2 separate regions of the Homo sapiens genome follow, and region 1 is linked to region 2. Evidence: fine-mapped expression QTL. Tissue or cell type: whole blood. Region 2 holds a variant in brackets; the other region holds the start of a gene. All regions are shown on one strand. Distances are between the middles of the regions.

Region 1 (2,826 bases), 54 kb before region 2:
ACGCGAGGTGGGGGGGGGGGAGATGGGGAAGAGGCATGGGACGCTCAGGGGATTAGCAGGAGATTGAATGGGGGTGGACCTCTGTAAGGGGAAGGGGGGTGCCACCGGCAGGCAGAGAGATCAGGCCACTGAAGAGGTGAACGTGAGTTAGGGAGGAGGACCTGGAGGTGGATGTAATAGGGGAAGTAGAGGAAGAAAGGGGAGGGAGGGGGCTCACGGGAGCAGGAAACGATGGAGTCATGGGGAGTGGGGGAGGATGGATGGGAGCTAGAAGGTGGGGCGGCCTGGGACCCGGGCACATGGGCTCGGCGAAGAGCGGGCGCGCCGCGGGGGACTGGGGTGCGGGGAATGCCGGGAATGGGGGTTCGAGGAGACCCCGGGGAAGGGAAGGGGAAGCGGGAGTTCTCGAGCAGAGGAGCGGGAAGTGGGAGTTCCAGCGAGGCAAGAGCGGGAAGGGGGTTCCGGAGCAAGGGGCGGGCGTGAAGGTACAGTCGGGTTCGCGAGGGTGGCGTTAGGAGGGGCGGGGTGGGCCGGAGGCTGGCGCGGGAGAGGGATCCCGGGCGCCTGTTGGGGTGCGGAGGGCAGGAATGTCCTGGCGTCCCCGAGAGCCGGGCCAGGACTCCGGAGTCTTCGGAGGACCAGGCTCAGGGCCGCCTCCCGGCCGGGGCCCCTTAGGGAGGGGCGGGGATTCCCCGGGTCCCTCAAGGCCAGAGCGGCAGCCGCCGCGGTCCCAAGCCCCCTTCCTACCTATGCCGGGCGCCACATAGACGAAGTACAGCAGCGAGGACGAGAGAGAAAAGAAGAAGAGCGCGGCGAGCAGCGAGCGGCGCGGCAGCCGCAGCAGCCCCCGGCGGGCGCGCATGCTGCAGCCAGGCGGCCGCTAGAGAGCCAGGCCGGGCCTGCTCCCGCAGCTCCCCGTCCGCCGCCTCCTGGGCCGCCGCCGCCACCGCCTGGGCCTCGGCCACCGCCTCCCGGGCCTCGCGGGCCGCCACTCGCCGCCGCCGCCGCCTCGCCGCTCCCAGCCGCCGGCCGTCGCGGGCCGGGCCACATGAAGCGGGCGGGGGCCAGAGCGGCCCCGAGCGGGCGCAGCGGCGGGGGCGGAGGCGGGGCGCACGCGCGGGAGGCGGGGCCAGTGCCGCCGGGCACCGTCGCAAAAGACCCGCGCGCTTGCGCTCGCCGCCGACCCTCGCTCGGCGCCCACAGCAGCCCGCATGGAGTAATCGCCAAATGGCGACAGACCCTCTCCCAGTGCGGCCACCGCCCAGGCTTTCGGGGAATGTCTCCCAAGTGCTCCGCGCTAGCTCGTCCCCCATCTCGGGGGCCAAGGGGCCATCTACAAAGTCTGACTCATCTCGTTGCCCACTGCAGCAGAAGAGTGGGGACTGCAAGGCTTGGGGGTTCGGCCTGGTATACACCCTCATTCATTCATTCATTCATTCATTCAATTCACCATTTATTTATTGAATGCCAGACACAGTTGTTGGCGCTGGGCATGCTACAGAGAAAAAAAACGATAAAAATCTCTGTCTACTTGAAACTTACATTATGTGAGAGATAAAAGAAACAAATCAGCTAGTAATATCAGGTACTGGTAACACATATGAATACGATAAAACAGGAGGATGTATTGCAGGCAGGCTGGAGTGGTCAAGGAAGGCCTCACTGAGCAGTGACACGAACTGAGATATAAAAGGGTGAGAAAGCGCCAGCTTTTTTGAATAAGCTGGGGAAAAAGCAGTCATACCAGGGGGAACAGCAGGTGTAAAGGCCCTGAGGTAGGAAAAGGGCTGATCTGCCCCCGAGTTGAATCCAAGGCCAACATGGATAAAATCCAGTGAAGTAGGGGGGGAAATAGGGATGAGCTTGGAGCTGTAGTCAGGGATCCTACTGTATCAGAAATAGCATAATGATAACAATTGTCAATGTCTCTAGACTTCTGCTGAGAAACATGGACTTCACTCATGCCATGAAATTCCCCCACCAGTCTTGAGATGTGTGCTGTTATTATTACTATCATACAAATGAGGAAACTGAGGTTTCTAGATGGAAAGGCAATTCACCCAAGCCTTGCAGTAAGGGCTTAAATCAAAACTGGCCTGTCTCCCATGTCAGGCCCTTGACCTCTAGGTTGTAACTGTCTCAGCAGTCTGTATGACCTCTAATTCTTATCCTGCAGGCAAATCGGTATCCTATCCCCATCACCTGGGTATGGGACCATATCCAAAAAAATGCTTTCAGATCAGCATCAGCTCAAAGGACCTCAGAAGGCAATGAACAGTCCTAGAAATTTATGGCAAGAAGCAGTAGCCTCAAGGAGCTGGACTGAGGAGGCCAGTGTCCCTGTGTAGACATATCTGAAACTAGGGTACTGTCTTGGAATGCCAGAAGCAGTGGGGAGGGGAGAGGACTTTGCAGGGATTCTGTGAGAATCAACAATAATTCTGATTTATATTCCTAAAGTGATTTCTACTTTTTACAGTGTTTCTTTGATCCTTTAAGTGGGGAGTCTAGAGCCACACTGCCCAGGTTCTCTGACTCCCAGCTTTTCCATTGTTAGCTGTGTGACCTCACGCAAGTTAAACTCTCTGTGCCTCGGTAAAATGGAGGAGGTTATTAGCAACCTCATCAGGTTGTTGCGAGGATTTAAGTAATACATGCAAAGTGCACATAGTAAGAGTGCTTAGCTGTCACCTAATTCAATACCCCTGGAGAATGGTATGGTGGAAGAGAAGAGGCTTAAACGATCAAAAAGGAAAGCAGAGAATTTTGACTCAGATAGATGTGAGTTCAAATCTCGGCTTGGCATCTCCTGGCTGTGTGACTCTG
Region 2 (2,907 bases):
GGATGCTCAGATGCCCAAAGCACCTAACATGAGGGGAAGATTTATGGCCTAGACTAGACTATACTGGACACCAATTTCTTTGGGAAACCTCCCCTCCCTCGCTTCCACTCCCTGCAGTTCAGGTGAGGCTGTTTATACCCCTTGGTTCCACCAAGAAGCATGTGACCAGGCCTGGACAATCAAAGCATTGCCTTCTTCAAGTGACAATGATTGGTTCAGAGATGAACCACAACTTGAGTTCGTCCAATCAGAGTGAATGCTGCAACTTCAGCAGCATTTCCAGGAAGTGACCTCCTTTCCCACCACACTCATACCTGGCAGGATGCAGGCCTGGAGCTATTGGTTGCCAGCTTGCTATCAAGTAGATACTAAGACTGGAGCCAACTCACTGAAGAGCAAAGCCAAGAGATGGCGAGAGACTATGTCTGGTAACCTCATTTGAGTTCCTGAATCCAGCCAGGTCTGAAGCCAGTACTTTTCAGTTACTTACTTCAGTCCTTTTCAGTTACTTAAGCCAATAAATTGCTTTTTGCGTAAAAATCAGTTTCAAATGGGGCTTCTGTCATTTACAAATAAAAGAATCCTAGGCTGGGCACAGTGGCTCATGCCTGTTATCCCAGCACTTTGAGAGGCCAAGGTGGGAGGATTGTTTGAGTTCAGGAGTTTGAGACCAGCAACATAGCAGGACCCCATCTCTATCTGAAAAAGAAAAAAAAGGGCCGGGCGTGGTGGCTCATGCCTGTAATCCCAGCACTTTGGGAGGCCGAGGTGGGTGGATCACGAGGTCACGAGATCGAGACCAGCCTGATCAACATGGTGAAACCCCGTCTCTACTAAAAATAGAAAAATTAGCTGGGCGTGGTGGCACATGCCTGTAATCCCAGCCACTCGGAAGGCTGAGGCAGGAGAATTGCTTGAACCTGGGAAGCGGAGGTTGCAGTGAGCCGAGATCGCGCCACTGCACTCCAGCCTGGTGACGGAGCGAGACTCCATCTCAAAAAAAAAAAAAAAAAAGAAAAAGAAAAAAGAAGTATACATACAAATAAAAGAATCCCAAGTTTCTCAGTGTTTGGAGGAACATGTTTGAAAGACAAATTGAAAACATGTTTGAAAGACAAATTCCCAGGTGACCGAGACACCTGTGCTGGGACCTGAACCTCCACCTTTGGAACAAGCTCCTCCGGGACCCCTAATGTATGTAGTCCTGCCTTTATAGTCTGAGACTCTCTGACCCAGACTTTGGGGGAAGGACGGTCTCTTAATTCTGCATGGGAAACAAAAGACACCCAGTCCTTTCCATCACAAAGCCCCAGCTACCTTCTTGGCAAAGAGTAGGGAAATGCCTTTCATTCTTTCCCAATGGCCCTGGAATTGA[G/A]AAAATGAAAGACAGTTGATTTCCCAATCAGGTTATTCCACCACGTTGAACTTTCGGTAACTGTCCTTGCCCCATCGTGTTGCGAAAGCATTCAGGTTGAACAGTGTTCAGGAAGAATACTCAAGCAAAAACTGGTTTGCAGCCAAATACAGAGACTGCAAACCCCAGTGGCTTCAGGGGCCAGGCAGGGAAAGTAAACATGTGAAACAATAGGGAGTAGTCCTGCCTGTGGGGAACAGGGGAGTTCTCATGCCCCAGCCTAATAAATGAAAAAATTATTTATACACCACAGTGGAACCGGAGATGCACCTAAAGCCATTGGGATGTGGTTTCTCTTTTTCATCTCACTGCTCTGTCTCTGATGTGGCTTCATTCTCAGAGGATTGTGGGCTCACAAGCCAACATCCTGACAGTTTAGAAACCACAGGAGAAATGTTTCTCTTTCTCAATCGTTTCAACATAAATCCTGGATGAAACTGTTATTGGCCTTGTTTGAGTTCAAATGGTCATCCCTGAACCATCCCTGTACCTAAAAGAGGTATGGTGGTGTCATTGGTCAGACCTGAGTCTGACCCATCCTAGAATGGGGTTCAGGCCCACTTTAACCATATAGACTGAGACTGGGGAATGGGAAAGGTTTCATGCCTTTGTTTGGGCTCCCTCAGAAGCAGACTCTGAGATGAGGATTTGAGGTGCAAGTGGATTATTTGGGAGATGATCCCAGAAAGCACCATTAGGGGATTGAGGGAATGAGACAGAGAAGAGAAGCCTGCGGAAACAGGAAGTATTATCCAGCAAGTTACTACTGTGGACAACTGGAGCACAATCCCATCAGGGAACTCTGGCAGCCAGTGTAGAGCATTGTTTTAGTCTATTTTGTGCTGTTATGATAGAATACCACAGACTGGGCAATTTAAAACAATAGAAGTTTATTTGGCCCATGGTTATGGAGGCTGGGGAGTCCAAGGGCATAGTGCTGTCATCTGGCAAGGGCCTTCATGCTGCATCATTCATGGTGGAAGGTGAAAACGTAAGAGAAGGTGAGGGTGAACAAGAGATTGAACTCGCAGCCGCAAGCCCTTTCACAACTGGCATTAATCCATTCTCATGAGGGCTCCATTAGGCTCCACTCCCCAGCACATTTGAATTGCGGATTAAGTTTCCAATACATGCTTTTGGGGGGACACATTCAAACCATAGCAAACATAGACCTCAATGTTATCCCATCTTAGTGCTGAGGGAGCTGGGGTATTCATCTACCAACTTCTGTCAGTCATTGTCTGACAGTTGCTAGCAGGAGAGTTTTTGCCCAGAACTTCCAGCATGGAAGAGCATGGTCCCTGCTGGTCTGAGAAAGTCCTCAGACAAAGAGACGAAGCTTGGGCCAGCGTGCATTGAAGGTTAGGACAATGGCCAGGGCACCTATAGCCTTTGCTTCATTGTCTGAAGGAAAATTGGGGTGCTATGATCAGAAGAAGGCACTGATGTTGCACAGGTCAAACAAACATGTTCATTCAAGGAGTGAATCGGTT

The links.
Region 1: B4GALT5 starts here. The variant in region 2 is fine-mapped to the expression of B4GALT5 in whole blood (TOPMed, PIP above 0.99).

Annotation. Positions count from the first base shown.
Region 1 is chr20:49,712,829-49,715,654 of GRCh38, forward strand. It overlaps B4GALT5 (beta-1,4-galactosyltransferase 5), which reads right to left and starts at 1,050. Exons shown (of 9, transcript NM_004776.4): 1 at 748-1,050. The coding sequence starts at 862. RefSeq lists silencers at 523-642, 933-1,262.
Region 2 is chr20:49,767,025-49,769,931 of GRCh38, forward strand. The region is part of intron 2 of LOC105372652 (a long non-coding RNA gene); the gene reads right to left. Among named protein-coding and RNA genes, the nearest start is that of SLC9A8, 44 kb to the right of the region's middle. RefSeq lists enhancers at 1,500-2,349, 2,350-2,907. The variant G/A (reference allele first, on the strand shown) is at 1,376.